Homo sapiens: one gene and its partner. The protein of the gene in region 2 interacts with the protein of the main gene of each other region in a pairwise test. Each region holds a gene or a part of one and is shown on either strand. Other genes may lie near its edges.

Evidence for each region.
Region 1: the proteins of CTNND1 (region 2) and SYNGAP1 interact in binary tests that used the Homo sapiens proteins (3 or more experiments, as listed by UniProt).

Annotation. Positions count from the first base shown.
Region 1 is NC_000006.12:33,444,065-33,447,883, reverse strand, and holds part of SYNGAP1 (ras/Rap GTPase-activating protein SynGAP), read right to left. Parts: intron 3,441-3,819; coding exon 3,267-3,440; intron 1,310-3,266; coding exon 1,098-1,309; exon of another isoform or gene 1,086-1,097; intron 55-1,085; coding exon of another isoform or gene 42-54; coding exon 1-41. UniProt on the Homo sapiens protein: Major constituent of the PSD essential for postsynaptic signaling. Inhibitory regulator of the Ras-cAMP pathway.
Region 2 is NC_000011.10:57,816,898-57,820,336, reverse strand, and holds the end of CTNND1 (catenin delta-1), read right to left. Parts: 3' UTR 797-3,439; downstream 1-796. UniProt on the Homo sapiens protein: Key regulator of cell-cell adhesion that associates with and regulates the cell adhesion properties of both C-, E- and N-cadherins, being critical for their surface stability.

The DNA of each region.
Region 1 (3,819 bases), on a different chromosome or scaffold from region 2:
CGGGGTGGTCCCGGCGCAGCTCCTCCTCCACCAGCATCAGCCTGAAGGGACGGGCTTCAGTGGGGTTAGTGGCGGGCACAGGCTCAGAGCCTGCCCATGGAACCCCATAGCTCTCTGGAAAAACCTCAGGCATCCTTATCCCTTAGAATCAGAGTCCCTCCATTGCCGTGATGCAAGACTCCCTGTTCCTCAGGATCATGCTCTCCACCTTCCTCCCAGGAACCCTTACACCTCCCTGCTAAGGCAGCTTTCTGTGCCTCAAAGACTTCTACCATCCAGACACCTCCAGGCCTCCATCGTCCCAATCAGGACAGCAGTGCCCCTTCCCCAGACCTTCCATGGCTGAGGACCTGGCTTCTGCATCCCCCATGTCACCTCACTGTGAAGATCCTCGAGGTGATTTATCATAAAGGATATCAATTAGAGCAGTGGTTTTCAAAAAATATTTCAAGAAGCCCTTTTCTTCTAATTAAATCTTACATAAAATACATTTAGAATGGATCAAAATGGAGGTGGCTCTGGTTGGAGTGCGCCCAGGGTCCCCCCCACCCCGACCCCACCACTCTGAAGATAATTGACCTCTTTGCTGAGGATACCCTCTTTGGAGCCCAGGACTTGCTGGAGCAGCTGAAAACATACACAGGCTAAAAGACCCTTTCTAACAGAACACCTTTCCAAGGCTAGAGAGGGAGGGTCCACCCAGGAAGGGCAGGGCCTACTCTGGCTAGGGAGCCCTGCTTAGGTTTGGAGTGAACATCACAGGTTAAGTTGAGAATAACTAGTGGGGAGCTCTGGCCTAGGGTAAATGCAAATGCAGTGATGGTTGGACAGGAACAGGTACATTTTCCAAGGGCTTCCGAAGCTACTCTATCAGAAGAGAGGTCAGGGTTTGGTAAAGAGATATTTAATGCACTAAGCAGGTTGGGGTTTCTCTCCATCTGGTGATGAGTGAGTGGGTGGCTTCCTGGGGAGGAGAGTGGTGGGCTCTCCTGGTGGGCTCCTGAGTTTGGGGATGGGAGTCAGCGGAGTAGCTCACCCACTTGCTCTCTCCAGCCTCAGGCTCTCCCTCACAACCCCCTCCCCAGGCCGCCCCTCACCTGCCAATGATGCTCTTGATCTGGGAATCCTTCTCTGCCTGCTGCTGCCTTAGCCTCTTCTCACTCTGCTCCAGTCGGGCCTGATACTGCATCAGGATTTTGCTGGTTTGTTCTTCCTGGGACAGCAGCCTCCGCTCATACTCTTCCAGCTTCCGGTTGGACATGTGCAGCCGCTCTTTCAGTGAGTGAATCTCCTCCTCGTACTCCTTCACCTGCCCGCCGGGCACACGACCCCGCACTATGAGGGGCGCCCCACCCCAAGCCCACCACCCAGCCTCCATCCCTGTCTGCCAAGCACAGCCACTGCATGTTGAGGGACATCCAGCTGCCTTCCCCAACCCCTTCCCTGCCTGTGGATCATATCCACACACCTGCTTTTGAGAAGACCCTGCCATGGTGCTGAGGTTCCCTCAAAATGGAGCAAGGTCACAGACTCCCACACCCTGAGGTCTATGTATGGCCCCTCATGAAGACCCACACAGAAACCTACACTCACAAACACACCTTGAGTAACTGTGCTCAGAAATTAAAAATAGGGTGACTCTTCAGCCCTAAGCCAGGCCCCAGAACACATGCTGGAGACATAGGAAGAAAAGGCAATTGACGGGGGAAAGGCAGGTGCTGTCCTCCATGTGACCCTCTCCTTGGCTCTGTCAAGGTGCCAAGGATAGGAGGTCTACAAGTGAATTCTAGGCTGAGAATCTAGGAATTCCAGAGCTGGAAGAGCTCAGAAGAGTCATTTTATCTGCCCTATTGGCTCTAGAGTCTACAGCTGTGCTGTCTAATATGGTAGCCACCAGCCCACATGTAGCTATTTAAAATTTAGGCCAGGCACAGTGGCTCAACACCTGTAATCCCAGCACTTTGGAAGGCTGAGGCAGGTAGATCACTTGAGCTCACAAGTTCTAGACCAGCCTGGGCAACATGGCAAAACCCCGTCTCTACAAAAAAAAAAAAAAAAAAAAAAGAAAAGAAAAAAAACTAGCCAGGCATGGTAGCACGACCCTGTAGTCCTAGCTACTCAGGGGGCTGAGGTGGGAGGATGTCTTGAGCCCAGGAGGCGGAGGTTGCCTCGAGCCATGTTTGCACCACTGCACTCCAGCCTGGGTGACAGAGCAAGACCCTGTCTCAAAAAAATTACAAAATTAAAATTAAATAGATCTAAAAATTCAGTTCCTGAATCACAACTAGACACATGTGAACACTACAGATTACAGAACATTTCATCACTGCAGAAAGTTATATTGGATAGTGCTAGTCTACAGCCTTTCTCAACAAGGTTTCCTCATCTGAAGCACAGAAAAAAAAATGATTCAAAAGACTATTTCCTCATTCTCTGAAGAGGATACATACATATATCACCAACCCTTCTACATGCAGAGGAGAGATGTGAATTAACTTCCTACGGTGGCTGCCTTGGGGCTAATATTAGGGTTTAATTCTCATTAAATTTGCTGGTCAAGCCCATCTGAGTCAGTCCCAACATTTCCTATGCTCAAAGACCACTTCCCCGTGTTAGGATCATATGTTCTTTATATATGACCTAATCCTGCAGCCGCCCTCTTCCTCAGGCCCTAGGAACAACAGCTTCCTCAAGTAACTTTCTGCTAAGTTATCTGTGTTAGCCCCAGAGCTCTTGGTGCCCTTTGCCCTCAGCCTCCACCAAGTGAGGGTCTGGATGGTCTTTTCACACATGACTGATACATACTACTTTACCACATGCATTCCCTGCCCACTGACTGTCACTTATGCCCATGGGACAGTGACTGGGTAGGCCAGACATCACTTGTAATATAGCTGCAACCCCCTCCATCCCCATCCAATTTATTAGCTCCTACTGCCAGTAAAGTAACATTTCCTTTCCTAAGCAGTCACAGGAGCCAGGGCTTATGTTCCTCCTGGGGAAGAACATGGAGGTAAGCCTAAAATAGATGATCCCCAGATAGTCTATGATATATATAACCTACAAAATAGAGTTGAAAGTGACTTTTAACAACTGTGTGTATCTGGTCTCCCCAGATGGACGGAAGGCTTCTCAAGAGGTGATCAGGTCTTTGCCTTTTCTTACCACCATAACTGACCCTGGAGGTTTCCCTTGGAAGTGACTAGAGATCTCCCCTGTGGGTAAAAGGAAACACTGGGGCTTGGAGCTGGTAGAGCCCATCGTACCCTATCCAGCCGGCTCTCATCCATCGATTTTGAGTACTCCTTGAGCTTGTACTCTTCCCGCTCGATGTGGGCACTCTCGATGTCAGCCGACAGGTGAGGCATGTTGGAGACCCAGGCCACTGTCCGCTCAGAGGCTGGCATTGTGGGGTTCAATGTGGATGGTGTCTGAGAATGCTGGGACAAGGCACAGTGAGGGCGAACAGAGAAAGAAAAGGTGGGAAAAAGCAGGGTACATTTAGAGGGCAACAGCACAGCCAAAGGAGACGACAGTCCCAGTCCTATTGCCCTGCTGTAGCCTTTATCACCTCTGAATGCCAGAGATGTGAGTTGAATGCCAGAGAATTTCTCCTGTTGTTCTGATTCAGGATCTGATCTTCATGCCTCCAAGCCCCCAGCTGGCCCTATTCCAGTCACCCCCATTCTACTTATGGATTAATCCCCTCTGGAATGAGAGTGCTAAGAGGGTTCAGTGCCGTATCCTTAGTGCCTGGCATAGCACATGGCACATAGCAGGCCCTCTATACACATTTGTTTAATGGCCAAAAGGAGGCAA
Region 2 (3,439 bases):
CAGGGAATTCTTATGTAACTTGCTCAGATATACAGGGCTAGGTCTAGTCAATTCCATCTATGAAAATATTAAGAACCTTTGCTTCAGATATAAAAATAGACAAAATGAGAAAAAAATGATATGGAAAGACTGGTTCTTAGTTCTTCCTGGGTGAGGTGATTCCAGTTTGTAGCAAAGAAAATTAGTTCAGCAAGAAAAACAAGTGGCCGGCCATGCGCAGTGCCTCACACCTGTAATGCCAGCACTTTGGGAGGCCAAGAAGGGTGGATCACTTGAGGTCAGGAGTTTGAGACCAGCCTGGCCAACATGGTGAAATCCTGTCTCTACTAAAAATACAAAATTAGCCAGGCGTGGTGGTACACACCTGTAATCCCAGCTACTCGGGAGGCTGAGGCAGAAGAATCGCTTGAACCCAGGAGGCTGAGGTTGCAGTGAGCCGAGATTGTGCCCCTGAGTGACAGAGCAAGACTCTGTCTAAAAAAAAAAAAGTGGCCAAGTGAGGTCCCAGCTTTGACCTCTGTCACAAAGTACATCAGTGTCAAGAAACTTGTGAGATAGGGCCTTTACACATCATTCTGTGTAACATCTCATTGTATTTAGATATGGCACAGAGAGAAGTGTTTTTAAGATCATAGATCTTGTCTATGGCCATATCACCCTGAACGCACACGATCTCGTCTGATCATAGATCTTAGCTATAGAGGATTCTCATGGATTGCAATCTATGAGAAAAGATCCATCTGTTTCACTCTCTAATCTAAACCTAACCTTGACACAACGCTTAGCATATAGGAGGTGCTTGGCAAATATTTATTGAATGAGATAAACAAATGGACCAATCCAGAAGGAAGAGAGAAGAGTAGGGTTTGTATCTAGCTCAATGCCAAAGGATAAGAACATAACAGGGAAATAAAGTGTTGCTGACAAGCAGCCAGGCTTTTCTATTTAGATAAAAATCATCTCAAGCAGGGCTATCAAAACTCTTTGGAAAGTAAACTCTTAATAGCTTTTTGGCTTTGTACTTCAACCTCTAATCTAACACTACAATTGTTAGACACAAATCAAGCTTTAAAAGCTAGTTGATTTCCTGGTCTCACTAGCCCATGAAAGTTTTCATACCCAAGTCCTAGTTCAATAAAACAAGACAGGACCATCATCAGGAGCAGCTATATAATTTTAATCTAAAGATTTGGGCATACAGAAAGCATTTCACATAAATTCTCTTGAGTCTTTAATTATATGACAGGACATAAGGACCTCAGAAAAATAAGTATCTTCCCATAGATCTTAACCCTTGATCTCTGCAGCAAAGATAGTCCCTGGTAATCCAGGTAATATGGTCTGTAAAATATTAATAAATAGGCCTATTGACTTCTGACTAAAGGACTGCATATAGCCTGAGAAGCAACATTATGGCCCAGTGGTCAGTACTTATATACATGGGCCTTTTGATCCTACATTTTCCTATTACGTAGTTGGGATTGGTAGTTTCTAATCTTCTAGTCCTAAGTGTTATATTTAAGAGAGCTACGTATTACAGTGGGCCTTATTCAAGGTTAGTTTTGTCAAATGTTGCAGAAGAATTCCAGTAATTAAAGTAAGTCATTAATTCTTTATGCTTCAGTTTCCTATCTCTAAATTAGCAATAAGCTCCCATGTTCAACTTCAGCCACATTCAATTTTTAAGAATCTTCAGAAGAAAAAATGTTTCACATATAGTTAACAAGAATGTTGCTTGATAAAGAGTTGGGGCTGAGCTCAAAATAAATCCTGGTATAACCTCCTTCTGGTTGCTCTGGAAAGGACACTGATACATAAGGAAGTAACAAAGATGCAAAGCAGGGAAGAAATAACAGCTTGAAGTGAAGAAATGACACAGACCCCCCACATACACACTTTAAAAACTTTATTTATATAAAAAACTCATTTGTTTTTAAAAGCATTAACAAGACAGAAAGAAAAGAGAAAAGGTATGGAGCAGAACACAAGCCCCTTAGTAGTGTTCGGTGGGAAGGTGGGATTTTTGGTTCTCTGGAATTGAATGTTTAGTGTTTTTTATAAACAAAAGAGAGAAAAAAAAGTTAAAGGTCCCCAAAAGCCCACGGCTGTTCTATTACCCACACCCCACCGAGAAAAAAGAGCACCAGGAAAAGAGCAGAAGAGGACAAGAGAGATCAAGAGTGGAGCCAGGTCTGGATGGGGCAATTTTCCCTGTGCAGTGTGCTCTTAGGGTCACAGAGAGCAAAAGGCTCCTTTTTGCCAGAAAAGGTAGATGAAAGTGGGAAGAAATGGGAAGGGGGAAAAGGGTAAATAAGAAATTTTAATGCACGAGTAAAGGGGGTGGTGGGTTGTGCACTTTTCTCCTACCCCATAGCCTCAATATATAAGGGAAGGGGAAGAGAGGGATAAGGAACTCCAGTTGCATGGAACAGAGCTTTTAGATTAGATTAAGGGGAGTAGAAGGCAAATAAGGAAAAGGATTAGAAATAATAATAATAATCAACCCGCATAGCAGCTGATTTCTCTAGCCCAACCTGCTAATTAATATATGCTAAAGTGAGAGGGGGCAATACTGGAGGGAGGGGAGAATTGGGGAGACCACTTCCCTGTAACTCCTTCAGAGATGATGGTAAATTCTGGGCACCTAAGGAGTAAGAGTCACACCACTCACTTCTCTTACCAGCCTTACTTTGAGATTCATCAGAATAGGATTTTTGCAAAATCCCACCCATATGCTGTTGAGCAAAAGCTTGCTATGACTGAAATCATGGCTATACCAATCCTCAATGAAGAATCTGAGGTTCTCTCGGTCACTTCTCTTCTTTCTGCTATTTAGGGCCAATAGTAGGTAAGAAAGCAACAAAATATAATTTGCAAAATTATGAGAAATGAGACTGCAGAGGCAAAGAAAGGCACATGGAAGGGCGGGAGGAGATGCACCCCAGGCCAAAGGCACAAAGAAGAGGCAAAGCCAGGGGCAATCCCCACCTTGTAAGGGAAAAGGGACAGGAGTTATGTACATCAAGTCCTTTAGTTTGCCAACCAATCCAGGGCAGAGGCAAGGGACAGGCCTATAAGGATAGGAAAAGGAGAAACGGGGGAGTGGGGAAGCCAGTTTCAGACTAATTGCTTCATGTACATTCCTACTAGCTCCTCCTAGAGGTCTTCTTCTTCCCAAAAACACATCTTTCTGCTCCTTCTCTACCAAAAGTCTTCCTTGACATTCTCCCCTTTCTACAGCCTCTTGGAAATGGCCAGGCCAACTCAGCAGACATATCACAGGGCAGGAGAGGTGGGTTAAGGACAGCCTGTGTTTAAGGGGCAGCAGCAATAGCCCAGGGTTGGCATGAGGCTTGCAGAAGAGATGGAGTCTGTAGGTTCTTGATGGTCCCTGCCTTGGAGATGAGGAGAGCAAGGTTTCTTAATCCCAGTTTTAGGA